Linked DNA regions of Homo sapiens. The protein of the gene in region 3 interacts with the protein of the main gene of each other region in a biochemical or structural test. Each region holds a gene or a part of one and is shown on either strand. Other genes may lie near its edges.

Region 1 (7,035 bases), on a different chromosome or scaffold from region 3:
GGAAAGGGGCTCAGGGAGAGCACACTGTGCTGGGGTGGGGTGGGGTGGGGTCGGGGTGAGGCTGTGGCCAGCCATGAGATTCACAGTGAGGCTCTACCTAGCACCTGGCAGAGGAGGGGAACAGTGAGATCTGCCATTCACCAAGGCCAGTCCAGCTGCAGCCCAAGGGGTGGTCTGGTGTGGGGGAAATGCGGCCAGAAGGTAAGGCCTGGCTAAGGAGGCGGCGCCATGCAGACACTGGAGTGGACAGGGCTGCCGCGGCACCAGCTGGGTGCTGGAGGCCAGCGGGGGCCGCTCACGCTCCGCCAGCCCCGCCTCCCCACATGCACCAAGTATCCTGCCTCAGCTGGTGGGCTCTGGGCTCCCCCAGCAAAGGGACTTCCTTGCTCCTCTGCCTGCCCCATGTCCCCGGATGGCGCCGACTGACTGGAAGTGTGGCTGGTCAGGGCGCTTGGAGACAATCTCACCTAACCCCCCGGTTGGACAAATGGGGAGACTGAGGCCTGATGAAGGCCACAGGTTGGCCAGGGGCCACACAGGGCCTTCAGAGGGCAAGCCTCCCGACCCCTCCCTGGTGGGGCCTTGCCTCTCTTACTTGACTGTGCCCATCACCCCATCAATGCCCCGGGACACCCCAGGACCCTCCAGAACAAGGCCAAGGTTCACACATTGCTGGGCATTTGGCAGCTCCCGTGGCAATGTGTGTCCCCAGGAGAGGGCCCGGGGCTGCAGAGCCTGGTGTGACCAGGCCCCTTTGGCCTGCGCTGCTGTGAATGTGGACAAAAAGCCACTCCGGAGATGTCACCAACCGCAGCACCTCGCTCAGCAGACATGGGTCTGGACACTGGCCCAGCCTCTTGCTAGCGTGTGACCAAGGGAAACTCCTTAACCAACCCAGTGCTCCTCATCTGCACAATGGGGGCGCCGCATGTCTCCTCTCTCACTGTCCCTGAGCCCCACTGTCCTCAGCTGGGCAGAGGGGAGTGGGCCTCCCAAGGGTGGTGAGACTCCAATGCAGATGCTGAGAGCCCAGGAGGCATGAGGGCCTCTCATGCACCTGAGTGGGGCCAGCAGGCTGGCTGGGCTGGGGCTGGGCCTCCCGGAACCGGGCGCCTTCAGACCTGGCCAGAGAAGCCCGAGAGGGCAGGCACCGGCAGAAGGACAAGGCCACACTCACTTGGTCACGAACGCCAGCAGCAGGGGTGCAAGGGCCTTGGGGAAATAGTCCTGCTGCACCATGTGGTTCAGCGCCATCAGGGGGCCGTACAGGTTGGCAATGGCCTTGACCTTGTCTTCACTCTGAGAGGAACACAGCGAAAAGCGGGGTGAGCTTCAAAGTCACCTGGGGGGGCCCCTGGACTCCACCATCCAGACTCTGCTGATAGTGCCCACAACTGAGTCTAGCCGGAATCTCATCGTGAAGACCAAGGCTGCTGGGGCAGACCCAGGCCTCGGGGCCCCGTGGGCGAGCCGGCTCAGGACTCGAGGTGAGGGAGGTTGGCGGGCATGGCTGGGGCAGCTTCTGTGCAGACCCCACCCACCTCCCTCCCGGGCCTGCTGTTCCTTCCGGCCTCACCTTGAGCAGACCCATGTGCACGAGCAGCCTGGTGAGGAAGGTGTTGGAGTTGAAGGACGAGGAGTTGAAAGCCTTCTGCATCAGGGCATCTGTAGGGCAGAAGCAGCAGGGGCAGGCTGCTGGCTATGGCAGAGGGCTGGGCCAAGGCACCCAGGGTTCCCCCAACACCGCGCAGACACAGGCTCGCCTGCCTCCTCGCCCTGACGAAGAGGCGAACACGAGAGGGACGGCAGAGACACAGGAACCAGAGGGAGTGGCAGTTGGCATCAGGGGATGGGCTCAGTCCATCTGCCAGCTGTGACACTCTGGCCCTTGCCCATCCTGGCCTCAGGTATAAAATGGGCATGGGGATGACACCCACTGTGCCCACCTCACACCGTGGGAATGGAGATTTCCTGAGGCAGGCTACCACTGGGGAGGATTCAGGTTATTTTGGCAGGGTGAGGGGATGTGCAGGGACTGTGCTAGGCTTCCTGGGAAACAGAACTAGGGCAACTTGTTCCCAAAAATGCCCACAGGCGGGCCCTCAGGGAGCAGGCTTGTGTCTGGCCCCCACCTCCTTCCGAGCCTCATTTCCCACTGAGCCGCCCTCCCCGCTTCGACGCCACGCCGGGAAGAGGCACCACATGTCCTTCCACCCCTTTCTATCTTTTCCAGGAACCGTCCCCCTCGCCTCAGGGCCCTTCCTCCCCTCTGCCTAACCGGAACTGGCTCAGGTTTCGTTAGATGTGGAGGCTCAGTCAAGCACATGGAAACAGGGTGGAAGGTGACAGGTGCTGGAATGGAGGAAACAGACAGGGTGGGGAGAGGGTTGTGATAGGGCTGGAGGGATATGGGCTGGTGCTCCAAGGAAGCCCCCATAATGTTATGGGGAAAGGTGTCCTCTGTGCAAGGAACCTCCAGGTAGAGTGGACGTGAGCACAGAAGCTCCAAGGTGTGGACAAGGGCTTGGCTCTCACCATCCCTCCTCCCGATAGACCTGCGTCCATTGGGCTTGCAGATGTGACTATCTGGACTTCCTAGAGCGGGCTATGGGTTCTAACTGTACATGGCTGTGTGGATTTGGGAAAGGCCTCAGTTTCTCAGTGGTGAAAAACAGGGAGAAGAGCAGCCAGCTGGCTCCACGGCAGGACCCTGACGGAGGAAAAACTCAGGTGGCCAAAGAGCAGTTCCCATGAGAGCGCTGGGGCTGACGAGTTACGGCAACCACGAAGGATACCTGGGGCCCACGAGCATCAAGGGACAGAGGGCACCCAGGTCTCACCCAGCCCACATTACCTACTGCATCCTGCACTGCCATCCTCACAGTAGCTTCGTCCTTGAACACAGATGACACCTTTAGGAAGGCAGAGACCACCTTCTCGGGGTCAGACGTGTCAGTCTGAGGACAAAAGAGACAATGGTTGGCCTGTGGCACGTGGTGGAGAGGTACCTGGGCTCTGACGCTAGCTAGGAGAGGCCTGGGCAGTACAAAGGCCCCTGGCGGGCAAGAACAGGTCCTGCCTTACCCCATGCTGTCCCTTCAGAGTCTGGCTTGGATTTGGCCTGCAGCAAGCACATATGCAGCATAGAGAGGGAATGAATGAGTGAATGAACAAGGATGAAAAATCATCCCAGCCGGGTGTGGCGGCTCATGCCTGTAACCCCAGCACTTTGGGAGGCTGAGGTGGGAGGATGGCTTGAGGCGAAAAGTCTGAGACCAGCCTAGGCAACATAGCAAGACCCCATGTCAACAAAAAGGAAAAAAATTAGCCAAGGTTGGTGGTGTGTGCCTATAGTCTCAGCTACTTGGGAGGCTGAGGCAGGAGGACTGCTTGAGCCCAGGAGGTCGAGGTTGCACTGAGCCATGATTGCACCACTGCACTCCAGCCGGAGTCACAAAGCAAAACATTGTCTCAGAAAAAAAAAAAAAAAAATCATTTCAGGGATCCAGTGGTCCCCATCTTGTAATTGAACTTGAAGAAATAATCTAGCATGTAGACAATACTCACATGCAGAAACGTTTACCTCAACCTCACAACAGGGAAAAGTGGAAAAAACGTCAGAAACAGTGCCTGGCTTTTAAGTGCTACATCCACACATTGCAATAAAAATCCTGAGAAGAGTTTTATGGGCACAAGAAAGTGATGAATGGTGCTACACCAAAGTGATAGGCCACAGAAAGGCTTACAACATCTGATTTATCATGTTAAAAGAAACAAAGAATACAGGCAAAACCTAACAAAGCAATTGGCCGAAATGTTAAGCCAACTCTGAGAGTGGGCCCATTTTATTTCTCTGTAACCTCCGAGCCTCCGCTTTCTTATCTACAAAATAAGGGCTGGCCGGGCACGGTGGCTCATGCCTGTAACCCTAGCACTTTGGGAGGCCGAGGTGGGTGGATCATGAGGTCAGGAGTTTGAGACCAGCCTGGCCAACGTGGTGAAACCTCGTCTCTACTAAAAAATACAAAAATTAGCTGGGCGCGGGAGGCTGAGGCAGGAGAATTGCTTGAACCCAGGAGGCAGAGTCTGCAGTGAGCCGAGATCGTGCCACTGCACTCCAGCCTGGGCGACAGAGTGAGACTCCATCTCAAAAAAATAAATAAATAAATAAATAATAAAATAAAGTAAGGGCAGCAGAGTCTACATTTCATGTTGCCAAGAGGGTTAAATAAAATCATGCCCAAATGCAGTGCCTGGCAGAAAATGGATGCCCCGAAGATCATCTATGAATGAATGAATGAGCCAACCAACAAGTGAGGCTGGAGTGAGGGCACCCATCCTGCAATAGGCACGTCACTTCCAAAGGAGCCCTGGGCAACAGAGTTGTTCTCGAAGCAGCTGGGCTGACGGAACACGCAGAGAGAAGCCAAGGAGGGGGTGGGCACATGCAAGGCTCTTAAGGAAATTCCCTAACCCCAGTCAGCATGGGAACTGGCGGGCTGTACTTTCTGTAGGCTGAGTGGGGAGGGAACATTTGCAACCCCTGGAGGCTTATAAATACCCTGGACATTTGCGCGTGTTGTAACAGTGGCAGGCCAAGCCTCCCTGCCCCCAGCTGACAGCGTCGCACCCCCAGGTCTCTGAGCTGTTCGTCCCTTTTCTCTAACAGCTCCAGAAGCCACAGCACGTACAGCGTGGGGGTCGAGGGGTGGTTATTACCTGCTGGGCTATCAGCACGGAGCTCTTGGGCCCTAGGCGCAGCAGCTTCTCTGGAGAGGGAAAAGCCAGGAAGGTGGAGACGTCTGCAGGAGGTGGGGAGGACAGCACGGGAGCTGGCTCCTGGGAAGTAGGGGCACAGAGGCTCTGGAGAATTCCGGACCCCAGACTCCCCGACACAGCTGTGCCCATCCCCACACCCAGCACATCCACCCTTCACTCCAGCCCATCTAGGCTCAAAGTCTAGAATTCTTCCTCCCACTCAGCTGCATTTCCCATCTATCAATATCACCCAGAGATGCTGGCCCTGGATGGCTCTTGGTCCAGGAGCCTTTGGGGTGAGGGGGAAGCTACCTCCCTGGGACTCAAAAAACCTGCTACGGCCAAGTGGATCCTCGTCATGACATGCAGTGCCCCAGAAATGACTACGGAGGCACATGGGGGCTAAAGTGGGTCCCCGTAGAACTACAGTCCAGCCTGGGTAAGCCCTGCTAGCACCAGAGGTGCCCAGAGGAAAAACTGAATTGAGGCGAACCTAGCCATTTGTTTAATTGATTCCATAAACCAGAGAAGCAGCCCAATTCAGCGTAAGCATGGGGAGTCCTTGTCCAGAGCCAAGTTCTCCAGGAGCTTTACTTAGGAACCTGACAGGGAATGCAAATGAATGAACTGGAGGTGTGGCAGCCCTGATGCAGCCCCGGGCCAGACAAGGGACACCAAGTGCCCAAGCCAGGTCATGGCCCAGCCACCATCCCAGGAATGGGGGAGTGGTTCCTAAGGGTCACCAAGACAATCCTCTGGTGGGTGGGGAAAAAAAAAATCAGAATTTCTATTTATGCTTATTTGTTTATTCTTTCAGAAACCCTTATGCATATCTTATAATATACATAATGCAGCAGCACTGCTACCTGTAAATAGACATTTATATTGGGGTAAATAGAAATATAGGTAACTATGGCTGGGCCCGGTGGCTCAATGCCTGTAATCCCAGCACTTTGGGAGGTCGAGGAGGGTGGATCACCTGAGGTCAGAAGTTCAAGACCAGCCTGGCCAATATGGCGAAACCCCGGCTCTACTAAAGATACAAAAATTAGCCAGGCGTGGTGGCAAGCATCTGTAATCCCAGCTGTTTGGGAGGCTGAGGCATAAGAATCACTTGAACCCGGGAGGCAGAGGTTGCAGTGAGCCGAGATCACACCACTGCACTCCAGCCTGGGTGACAAGAGTGAGACTCCATCTCAAAAAAAAAAAAAAGAAATATAGGTAACTATCATTACACTGGGACCATTTTCCTTTTTTTACTCAATATCATGCAATCAAAAAAAAATGTTTGTGGCTACTGTGCTTAAGGAGACACCCCCTACCCCATTGTGAAAGTGCCTCGGGATTTCACGTTCTCAGGACCAGGGCTCTGATTGTGGCAGATGATAGAAACTCACCCCAGTGTTAGGGTCCAGAATCTTCCGTGAGGGCGTGGCTGACTTCTCTCCCTGCCCTCGCTGCTGAGGCTCTTCTTCCTCCTCCTCCTCCTCTTCTTCCTCCTCTTCCTCATCTTCCTCCTCCTCTTCTTCTGCTTCCTCTTCTTCCTCTTCTCCTTCCTCCTCCTCCTCCTCGTCCTCGTCATCACTGCAGAAAGAGCTGGCTGAAGCAGATCCTCTCTACCCAGCAGCCCAGGTTGGCTCTAAGGCCTGGCTCCATGAGCCCAGAGACCTCACCTCAGCCAGGAGGGAGAGAGCCTGGTGGGGTGGGAGCACCTGCTCCCAGGGCAGGGGCAGGTGGATCACCAGGGAAATCCATGCTGTGGACACAAAAAAATAAGATCGGCCCGGCGCGGTGGCTCATGCCTGTAATCCCAGCACTTTGGGAGGCCGAGGTGGGTGGATCATGAGGTCAGGAGATCGAGACCATCCTGGCTAACGTGGTGAAACCCCGTCTCTACTAAAAATACAAAAAATTAGCCGGGTGTGGTGGCGGGCGCCTGTGGTCCCAGCTACTCAGGAGGCTGAGGCAGGAGAATGGCGTGAACCCTGGAGGCGGAGCTGGCAGTGAGCCGAAATTGTGCCACTGCACTCTAGCCTGGGCAACAGAGCGAGACTCCATCCCCCACAAAAAAACAAAAAAAAAAAACAAAAAAAAATCAGATCTTGTCCCTGTCCTCAAGGAGCCCCAGGTTTCATGGAGAGACAGAAAACGAAGACAGCTTTGTCACACCTAGAGCCCAGGGCTTGGCAGGAACACTGCCCAGGTTGAGATGCCAGGGCAGGGGCGCCCACATCCACATGACCTCAGGAAGCTACAGGTGTGGGGGAGGAAGAAGAG
Region 2 (7,155 bases), on a different chromosome or scaffold from region 3:
ATTTTTCAGTGATCCTAAAGAAAGATCTACACAAAAACTTCTAATGGCTCCTTGGTATTTCATTCTACCATACCAAAATTTACTCTGCACTTCAGCTTCCTCAGCTGTAAAATATAAAAACAGTACTGTAATCCATGTAAAGCACTTACAACAGTGCCTGGCACATGCTAAACACTCAATACATATTAGCTACTATTATTATACATTATGTTGTTTTCCAATTTTTTGTTATTAAAAGCAATACTGTGATAAACATCTTGTACTAAGATTTTTTTTTCTACTTGCTATTTCAAAAGGGATATTTTCCATAAGTTCTTTAAAAAATGACCTACTTCAGCTGGGTGTGGTGGCTCATACCTGTAATCCCAGCACTCTGGGAGGCTGAGGAGGGAGCATCACTTGCGCCCAGGAGTTCAAGACCAGCCTGGGCAACATGGTGAAACCCCGTCCCCACAGAAAATGTAAGAATTAACCGGGCATAGTGGCGCAGGCCTGTATTCTCAGCTACTTGGGAGGCTGAGGTGGGAGGAGCACTTGAACCTGGGAGGCCTCTGGGAGGAGCACTTGAACCTGGGAGGCTTCATTGAGCCATAATAGTGCCACCACACTCCAGCCTGAATGGCAGAGTGAGACCCTGTCTAAAAAAATAAAAAATAAAAAATAAAAATTACCTAACTCTATTTGACCATTACGCTTCTGTAAAACTGTTTTACAGATAGTACCACAAAACTGGTTTTTATTATTCAATGATCAGTCAATAACAGATCTATAAAATTATACCTCCAGTTATATAAAGCAATATTTTCAGGAAGACTAGGAATAATTTTAGGTCTTTTTAAAATAAAGGAGTTTATATTGCTCTGACTTTGCATTTCTAGCTTAACAGAAAACTTACTGCATAATTTATTAAAATGATTTGATCATTTAAGATGCTCCCAATCCTAAATAATGTTATTATCATATTGGGAGCCAAAAAAACTCACAAGATCAATGCCCAGTATTGTGAGACTAATACCCCAGACTCCCTGTCCAACCTCATCTTACCCTGATAATGTTACTGTGCTTGAATTGCCTTTCTAATGCACATCATTCTTTGAGCATGATTTTTTTGGTCTGTTTTAAAAAGGCAAGAAAATACCAGTCTGAGGCATATCTATGACGGCTGGGAAACAAAAGCATCCATTGGTGAAAGATTCAAGAGACAGAGGAGAGACTGAGAGCCTGTTCTTTGTGGCTGACCCACTGAATCTGGCATTGTTGCCGGTTGAGGCATAGAAAAATCGTAGGTCCAAGTCTCTTTGATACAGGGGACGCATCCCAGCAAAATTCCCCAGCCTGATGCTTAATACTGGATGTTACACTCTACCATCCCAAAGAAGCTGCTAAATGCTTGATCACTCACTCCACCTCCTGCTCCAAAGCTTATCGTGTCTCACTGCACCCTCATAGAGAATGGAAGTGTGAAGGGTTGATGTGAAAATGGAGTTTTATCAGTAACGATTTAAAGGCCAGGTGAAACAAGGTGAAGAGATGAATGTTTTTTATAGAATCCAAGAAAACAACTGAGTAAGTCATAGATCCATTTTTATTTCCTTCATTTTTTTCCAGGGAGGCCAGAATCTACTAGAACATTTTCTATGTCTTTTATTTTTTAGTTCCTTATTCCTAGCATTATTATAAAGAAAATAGGCCAGGCACAGTAGTGCTTTGAGAGACCAAGGCAGCAGGATCACTTGGGGTGGCAGGATCCCTTGGGGCCAGGAGTTTGAGGTCTGTCTTGGGCAAGGTAGCAAGACCCTATCTCTATGGAAAAAAAAAATGCATTTTTTTTTGCTGGGCATGGAGGCTCATGCCTGTAATCCCAGCACTTTGGGAGGCCGAGGTGGGTGGATCACGTGAGGTCGGGAGTTCCAGACCAGCCTGACCAACATGGTGAAACCCCGTCTCTACTAAAAATACAAAATTAGCCGGGTGTGGTGGCTCATGCCTGGAATCCCAGCTACTCCGGAGGCTGAGGCAGGAGAATCACTTGAACCCGGGAGGTGGAGGTTGCAGAAAGCTGAGATCGCAGCATTGCACTCCAGCCTGGGCAACAAGAGGGAAACTCTGTCTCAAAAAAAAAAAAAAATGCATTTTTTTTTCTAAAAAATAAAAAGATAAACCTCCTTTCCCAAGTAATAATAATAAACAAAGTAAAAGATGACAACAACACCTCTCTGTGAAGCAGATAAATTTCGTAGTAAGAACCACAAATGTAACCAAACTATGTTGAAAGGATCTCATGTTTCACCTTTGACTTTCTTTTAGTTCTCTGGTTTTTAACCCTTTCTCCTTCCTAAGGTAAAATGTTAGCATGGTAGGATGTATCTTCTTTAAATAGGGGAAATGTACTTATGAAGAAGATATTATTTAACAATCTGTCATTCAAGAAGAAAGCTGAAGCTTGTAATAATAAAAAAAAAAACCAAACACATATTCTCTCCAAGTTAAGGACTGTTTATCATAGGTGGTTCTCAAATCTTGGTTTGGGGTAAGTTTTCAAGGTTTTCTGTTTTTGTTTTGTAAGATAAGAGTGAACACACCCTCTGCTTCCTCCCAATCCTTCTCCCTTCTCCTACCCAAAGATAATCCAAACAATATATTTCTCCCCCCACCCCCTTCCTGGGATGAATTCATTAGCAAGACAAAAAGTCCTTCCTATTATTATTTGGGGTGGGCCTTCTAATTGCAATGTTCAGTGAGAGAACATAGGAAACAAGTGGTCTCTCTTTTCCGAGACGGCGTCTCGCTCTGTCGCCCAGGCTGGAGTGCAGTGGCGCGATCTCGGCTCACTGCAACCTCCGCCTCCCGGGTTCCAGCAATTCTCCTGCCTCAGCCTCCCGAGTAGCTGGGATCACAGGCGCGTGCCACCACGCCCGGCTAATTTTTGTATTTTTAGTAGAGACGGGGTTTCACCATGTTGGCCATGGTGCTCTCGAACTCCTGACCTCGTGATCTGCCCACCTGGGCTTCCCAAAGTCATGGGATTACAGGCGTGAGCCACCGCGCTCAGCCAAACCGCACGTGTGGTCTCTCTTAATAGTCCTCAGATGATGGGGGCAGGGTAGGTGGAGAAAGGGGGTGACAAGAAAAGCTACTTCTTGCAGACATTTATGAGCCAATTTTGTCAGATCTTTTGCGCCAGGATAACATTCCGTAATGGACTGGACTGAAGTAGAAAAGCAATGGCTCATAGAAAACATGGTTTAAAACCAGAAGCCACGTGATGTAACTTTATTTAGTCGGGCTGCGCTTTCATCTTTCTTTTAATAACTTAGGGAGAATAAGGGGCCCCAGTGGCAAATGCAAGCTCCCCTGCCTCCCAACCCGATTCCTCTGAGAACCTGCTGCCATCTGCCTGGACCTCCTGTAAGATGGCTCCTACGCGACCACGCTACCAGAGAATCAGCTCTACGTGCCACCAACATTGCCACCAACTGTCCATAGATCGCCTGCGTGCCTCAGCCCACTGACACTCGATGCCGGACTGGGCCAGAAGGACGACCCCATATTTGATGCCTTTTTGTCTCCCTGGACCAGAGACTCCATCCTTCCCTTTCCTCCCACGCTCATTTCTTTTTCTTTAGCCCGTGTAAAGCAGCGTGGGAGAGAAAACGAATTTCTTCTCCCTGGGGTACCCCGGAGCATCACTGCAGCCCCCAACAAGCGGCGGAGCCGGCGCGCCCCGGGCGGGCGGAGAGGCTGCGGGGACGCGCGCCCTCCGCCTCCCGCAGCTGCGCGTCCGCAGCCGAGGCGCCCGGGCCCGCAGCTTCCCGGGCCTCCCCGAGAGCCGGATCCAGCCGGCAGGTCAGGCCGGCGGCTGGGGTCCCGCGGGCGGAAGTGAGAAGGGCGGCGGGGGAGGAGGCTGCTGGCTGGGAGCTGGAATTCCCTTCCCGCCTGGCGCCGCCCGGGAGAGCCCGCGCGAGGACGCCCGCCGCGCTCCGCCGGCCCTTTTTTGGCGCTGAGGGAAAGGAGAAGGGCAGGGCCGCCGCCTCGCGGGAGCGGGCCCCGGGAGGAGGGGCCGCCGGAGAGGCCGGGCGAGCGCGGGCGGCCCTCACCTCGCCGCTCCTCCCGGGCCGCCATCCCTCGGCGCCCCGCCCGGAACCGGCGCGCGCGTAGGGGCTGGGAGGCCGGCGCGCAGATCTGGCGGTGAGCGCTGCCGCCCCGGGGCCCCCAGCCATGTCGGCCGAGGAGATGGTGCAGATCCGCCTGGAGGACCGCTGCTACCCGGTGAGCAAGAGGAAGCTCATCGAGCAGAGCGACTACTTCCGCGCCCTCTACCGCTCCGGCATGCGCGAGGCCCTGAGCCAGGAGGCCGGCGGCCCGGAGGTGCAGCAGCTGCGCGGCCTCAGCGCGCCGGGCCTGCGGCTGGTGCTGGACTTCATCAACGCCGGCGGGGCCCGCGAAGGCTGGCTCCTGGGCCCGCGCGGGGAAAAGGGCGGCGGGGTGGACGAGGACGAGGAGATGGATGAGGTGAGCCTGCTGTCCGAGCTGGTGGAGGCGGCCTCCTTCCTGCAGGTCACGTCCCTGCTGCAGCTGCTGCTGTCCCAGGTGCGGCTCAATAACTGCCTGGAGATGTACCGCCTGGCGCAGGTGTACGGGCTGCCCGACCTGCAGGAGGCCTGCCTGCGCTTCATGGTCGTCCACTTCCACGAGGTGCTGTGCAAGCCCCAGTTCCACCTCCTGGGGTCTCCTCCCCAAGCTCCAGGGGATGTCAGCCTGAAGCAGAGGCTGAGGGAGGCCCGGATGACTGGGACTCCTGTCCTCGTGGCCCTCGGGGACTTCCTGGGGGGACCCCTGGCCCCTCACCCCTACCAGGGGGAGCCCCCGTCCATGCTCAGGTACGAGGAGATGACTGAGCGTTGGTTCCCGCTGGCCAACAACCTTCCTCCCGACCTGGTCAATGTCAGGGGCTATGGGTCTGCCATCCTGGACAACTACCTCTTCATAGTGGGCGGGTACAGGATCACTAGCCAGGAGATCTCCGCTGCGCATTCCTACAACCCCAGCACCAACGAGTGGCTCCAGGTGGCCTCCATGAACCAGAAGAGGTAAGCACCCCGGCAGAGTGCTGCTGCCTTCTCATTCATTCACTTGTTCATTAGTTCATTACCCCAGTGTTTACTGAGCCAGTAAATAGGGGAGGGTGTGCTGTGGTGGAAATGACATCTTCAGGAATGTTGTTGGCCTTGGCGCTGGCAAAATTCCCAATGAACTAAGAAATTGCGAAGAGGACGTCCCCAGTGAGGTCAAGAAGTGGAGTGGTTTTTTGGCAGGTATTGTGCCTTTAGGTGAAACTGCTTTCTTTGCCTCTGTTCTTGTGAAAAAAGATGTTGTGGTTTCCTACAAGAATACTTTAAAAGAAAATTGCCCCTTAATTTTTAAAAAATTTGTCTTAGTTTTTAGGATTTGATCCTGATGATAATGATACACTGGACAGTAACCTGTAACACTGACTTTGGGGGATTTTTTTCTGATGTCAGTGACTGTGACAACAGAGTCTTCCACACTGTGATACCCATCATGATCAAGAGATAATCACTGGAAATGTATTAACGTTTGCAATAGGGGTTGCTTTTCTTATTTTTTATCCTCTCTTTTGCTTCCTTCCCTGGACAGCCATCGTCATGACCCACAGCTTGAGCCTGGAAGTGTTCAACTACAGAATTGGAATATTTTCATTTACGCAACCTTCTCCCCCTCCCATCCTGCAAATCTCTCCTGCCTCCAACAAGGGTGACTTGAAGAAAGGAAGAGGAGGAGCTTGAGGAGTGGGATGAGAGGGGAGAAGGGAAAGGAACCAGGGAAGGAATATCAAAACAAGAGCAAAGAGCATATACAGGAAGAGATGGTAGGAAATAAAGATGGTAGCGCCTAGGAGGCCTCAGCGTCATTCAGAAGCAGGGAAAAGAATCAATGTAACTCAAGAAAGGATGAAAATACCCTTTCTTCCCATCCACGTGTTTCCATCTCAATCCTCACAGGGTCCTGGTCCTGAAGTGTGGAGCAAGGAGTTGGGGAGCTCACAGCTGGGCAAAGAAAGTCTTAACAGTAACAGAGAATCCTTTATATATCTGTTTATTTGACTCGAGGGTCCTCCTCGGCCAGGGATTATTTGGGGGAAATAACTGGCTTTATTTCTCCTATAATATGAAATTCATTTTGAAAAGTATGCTTTTTCCCCTGATAATACATAGTTACAGAAAACTGGAAAATGGAAAAGAATGAAGAAGCAAAAAGATGATTATTCCTACCCGCTCTTCCTAGAGGCAGTAACCAGGTTGGCATATTTCCTGCCAGCCCATTTTTAATGCATTATTTACACCATTGAGATGATACCATATTTAAAATTTGGTATCAGAAGTGTTATTTTAAAACAAATTCTATGCACTGTAATTGAAACAACAAAGGAACATTGTGTGGCCATGGGTGGTGGTCTGATTAGGGGTGGGCGGCCCTGAGTTCTCTCACTCCTCTTGCATTCCTCTAGCTACACATCATTTGGTGCTCACCAGGCCATCCTTAGTGCCACAGTTCCTCACACTTCTTTCTTCCCTTCATACATCCTTGGTAGTCTTTGTCTTTTTTTCTAGGAAGGCCCTTTTCATCCCCTTAAAAAAAAAAAAAGCATTCAAGTAATGCATGAATGCATGATTCTTAGAAAAACTGCAAATTACACACAAAACTGTGGAGTAAAAAGAGTAAATGTCTGCCCTCAGGGTACAGAAAAAAAGTGTCAGTGTATCAACAGACTTTTGTTACCTTTAGATATTATAAATGTATAAACATTTATACTGTAAATTATATGTATACTTGTATAAATACAGTTAACCCTTAAACAATGTGGGGGCCAGGGACACCAAACCCTGCACAGTCAAAAATCCCCATATAACTTTTGACTCTCCCAAAAACTTAACTACTGAATAGCCTACTGTTTACCAGATGCCTTACCAATAACATAATCAATTAATACATTTTGTATATGTAGTATATACTTTATTCTAACAATAAAGTATGCTATAGAAAAGAAAATGTTATTAATAAACTAAGGAAGAGAAAATTAAGCGGAAGTGGATCATCCTTATCATCTTGACGCTGAGTAGGCTGAGGAGGAAA
Region 3 (3,356 bases):
TACCCTTCATTTTTTTTTAGTGTTTTAATTGGTAATACAGCATTCATTTTCCTTCTGTTTTTAATGTGACTGTGCTTAGGTTACTTTCCGCACCAGAATCTATCACTGCAACATCAACAGTCAGGGAGTCATCTGTCTGGACATCCTTAAAGACAACTGGAGTCCCGCTTTGACTATTTCAAAGGTTTTGCTGTCTATTTGTTCCCTTTTGACAGACTGCAACCCTGGTAAGCAAATCTTTATTAACATGTACAATAAGACTACAAAAACGAGTGCTTTTTTTTTTTTTTTTTTTTTTTTTTTAGTTAGCTTTAAATGTAGATTGAGAGGTAAATGTTATTCATAGAAAGATCCCCATAAAACAGTTTGTGAGGAAATTACCAATGCCATTTGAAGTAGACTAGGCCAAAAGTTTCTCAATACCTTCATTTAATTTGTTAATGGCATACCACTCTATAATTATTTTGTCACCATCATTAATGGAATCTCTACTTTTAAAAGTATTTAGGTGCACAGACCACTTCTTTTTTTTTTTTTTTTTTTTTTTTGAGACGGAGTCTCGCTCTGTCGCCCAGGCCGGACTGCGGACTGCAGTGGCGCAATCTCGGCTCACTGCAAGCTCCGCTTCCCGGGTTCACGCCATTCTCCTGCCTCAGCCTCCCGAGTAGCTGGGACTACAGGCGCCCGCCACCGCGCCCGGCTAATTTTTTTGTATTTTTAGTAGAGACGGGGTTTCACCTTGTTAGCCAGGATGGTCTCGATCTCTTGACCTCATGATCCACCCGCCTCGGCCTCCCAAAGTGCTGGGATTACAGGCGTGAGCCACCGCGCCCGGCCGACCACTTCTAACAAGAGTAAAGCAATGTGTCTGAAACCAGTGCCTCCTTTTCCTGCTCCTTCCATGCTGCTGTATGCTTTTAGGCAACTACTTTAATAATAGAAGGCTTCTTGTTCTCCCTTCCTTTTTTAATTAATTAGTTATATAAAGTGTAGTAGTAATGGATATTAAAATGATAGCCAATGAGAATTGAACTAGATTATGATTATATAACCTCAGATAAAATCATTTGTGTATAATTCATAACTTTAAAAAATGCCTGCCACATGTGAACTTCAGAAACTTGGGTAGCTGACTTGATAAAGTGATGTTTAGACCTGAAATTTCACACATTTTGTTTCGTTATGTGACCTTTTTTTTTTTTTTAAGTTGACTTACTTCTAAATATTTGATAAGTCACTAAAGACTGTTACTGTTGTTACCTTATGCTCGGCAGAGATACATATGCAATAGATAGTGACAGATGGATATTCATTGTGGTATCCTTTATTAGAGTATTGGAAACAACCTCAATGCCCATTAATAGATGTAACGTTTAAAAAGAATGTGACAACTCTATATGAACTAATAGGGAAATATCTTCAAGATATATTAAGTATAAAAGGCACTGGAAAAAAATACATATACACAACATAATATTCTAAATGCTTGTCAGTGCATGTAAGAACTCTGGGAAGTAATGTTGTAAATGGGTAACAATTGTTTGCCAGGGAAAGAAACTTCTGAGCAGTTGGAGTCAGGAAGGAAGATAGTTTTTTTTTACTGGCTATGGTTTGGTACAATTCAAATATTGTACCATATGTACATATTTTTTTGTTTTTAAACATCAAAATAAAAATTTATATCAGGTTCACTCTCTAGTTCAGAATTCTACTTAAAACAAAATGGCAAGTAAGTTTTCAAGTGTAAATATTGATAGTGATTAGAGTCATATCAGGCACAGAATGAAGGAAGCATTTTATTTGAAATAGCATGGTATTGTAAGACTGGGGTTTTATTTTAAAATTAACCATTTTTGAACTATTCATAAGCAGAAATATAACCACCTAGTATACTTCCATTTTGAATGAAAGGCCAAAATTACAAAATAGTTTTTGTATATTAAAGACATATCTTTTATAAAAGTCAAATCTAACTTTTTATATATAGCTCAAAATTCATTTTTTTTTTTATGAAGGGGACTTTCCTAACTGGAATATTAAAATATACATATGATCATGTTACTTTAAACTTTTTCTTTTGAAAATTTAGCTATTATATATGAAGATACTGCTGAAAAATAAGCATTTCATTTTAATAGAATATTAGAACTATACCTTGAAGAAGATACCACAAAATAGCTTTTAATGTTCTTTCTGCTTTTCCAGCGGATCCTCTGGTTGGAAGCATAGCCACTCAGTATTTGACCAACAGAGCAGAACACGACAGGATAGCCAGACAGTGGACCAAGAGATACGCAACATAATTCACATAATTTGTATGCAGTGTGAAGGAGCAGAAGGCATCTTCTCACTGTGCTGCAAATCTTTATAGCCTTTACAATACGGACTTCTGTGTATATGTTATACTGATTCTACTCTGCTTTTATCCTTTGGAGCCTGGGAGACTCCCCAAAAAGGTAAATGCTATCAAGAGTAGAACTTTGTAGCTGTAGATTAGTTATGTTTAAAACGCCTACTTGCAAGTCTTGCTTCTTTGGGATATCAAAATGTATTTTGTGATGTACTAAGGATACTGGTCCTGAAGTCTACCAAATATTATAGTGCATTTTAGCCTAATTCATTATCTGTATGAAGTTATAAAAGTAGCTGTAGATGGCTAGGAATTATGTCATTTGTATTAAACCCAGATCTATTTCTGAGTATGTGGTTCATGCTGTTGTGAAAAATGTTTTACCTTTTACCTTTGTCAGTTTGTAATGAGAGGATTTCCTTTTACCCTTTGTAGCTCAGAGAGCACCTGATGTATCATCTCAAACACAATAAACATGCTCCTGAAGGCATAGTTTCCTGTCGTAATATTTTAAGTCAGTCTTGTTAGAAAGTGTGTCTGAGATGATTGTTGATGAAGTAAAAATGTGGCTATGAAGATTACTAAAGACTAGCACAAATAAACCCATTCTTAAATTGAAAACATTTAAAATCCTATTAAATGCATAGAGTTTTTTTCCTTTGTTATTGAAAGAATGACCTTAAATAATCAAAAGTGGATTTTGACCCATTGGTCTCAAACACATAAAGTTGTACTTCGGTAATATGATGTTTAAGCCAAAAAGAATATGAAATCCTGGCTCGCTCACTCAGGAATCTGGTAATGTCTTATGGAACATGTTGCTTCCAAATTGATGATTTTTGTTCAGCACTGGGCAATATTGTCAGATGGTAACTGTGATGTGGTAGCTAGTCTGTGATGCACTTTTTACTTCTAATCCTGGTCTTGAATGTTCATGTTGTGTATTACCATTCTTACTATGGCAAGTGGCCAGCAAATACAGCCAGAGGCAGAGATGAACACAGAA

The links. The genes of interacting proteins can lie anywhere in the genome.
Region 1: of the proteins of UBE2E3 (region 3) and RANGAP1, one has a biochemical effect on the other in vitro, tested with the Homo sapiens proteins (one study listed by BioGRID).
Region 2: the proteins of UBE2E3 (region 3) and KLHL42 form a complex in vitro, tested with the Homo sapiens proteins (one study listed by BioGRID).

Annotation. Positions count from the first base shown.
Region 1 is NC_000022.11:41,248,153-41,255,187, forward strand, and holds part of RANGAP1 (ran GTPase-activating protein 1), read right to left. Parts: intron 6,515-7,035; coding exon of another isoform or gene 6,433-6,514; exon of another isoform or gene 6,343-6,432; coding exon 6,156-6,342; intron 4,899-6,155; exon of another isoform or gene 4,840-4,898; coding exon 4,720-4,839; intron 2,958-4,719; coding exon 2,855-2,957; intron 1,666-2,854; coding exon 1,577-1,665; intron 1,300-1,576; coding exon 1,178-1,299; intron 1-1,177. UniProt on the Homo sapiens protein: GTPase activator for RAN. Converts cytoplasmic GTP-bound RAN to GDP-bound RAN, which is essential for RAN-mediated nuclear import and export. Mediates dissociation of cargo from nuclear export complexes containing XPO1, RAN and RANBP2 after nuclear export.
Region 2 is NC_000012.12:27,776,113-27,783,267, forward strand, and holds the start of KLHL42 (kelch-like protein 42), read left to right. Parts: upstream 1-4,120; 5' UTR 4,121-4,218; coding exon 4,219-5,090; intron 5,091-7,155. UniProt on the Homo sapiens protein: Substrate-specific adapter of a BCR (BTB-CUL3-RBX1) E3 ubiquitin-protein ligase complex required for mitotic progression and cytokinesis. The BCR(KLHL42) E3 ubiquitin ligase complex mediates the ubiquitination and subsequent degradation of KATNA1.
Region 3 is NC_000002.12:181,060,586-181,063,941, forward strand, and holds the end of UBE2E3 (ubiquitin-conjugating enzyme E2 E3), read left to right. Parts: intron 1-79; coding exon 80-227; intron 228-2,205; coding exon 2,206-2,303; 3' UTR 2,304-2,840; downstream 2,841-3,356. UniProt on the Homo sapiens protein: Accepts ubiquitin from the E1 complex and catalyzes its covalent attachment to other proteins. In vitro catalyzes 'Lys-11'- and 'Lys-48'-, as well as 'Lys-63'-linked polyubiquitination.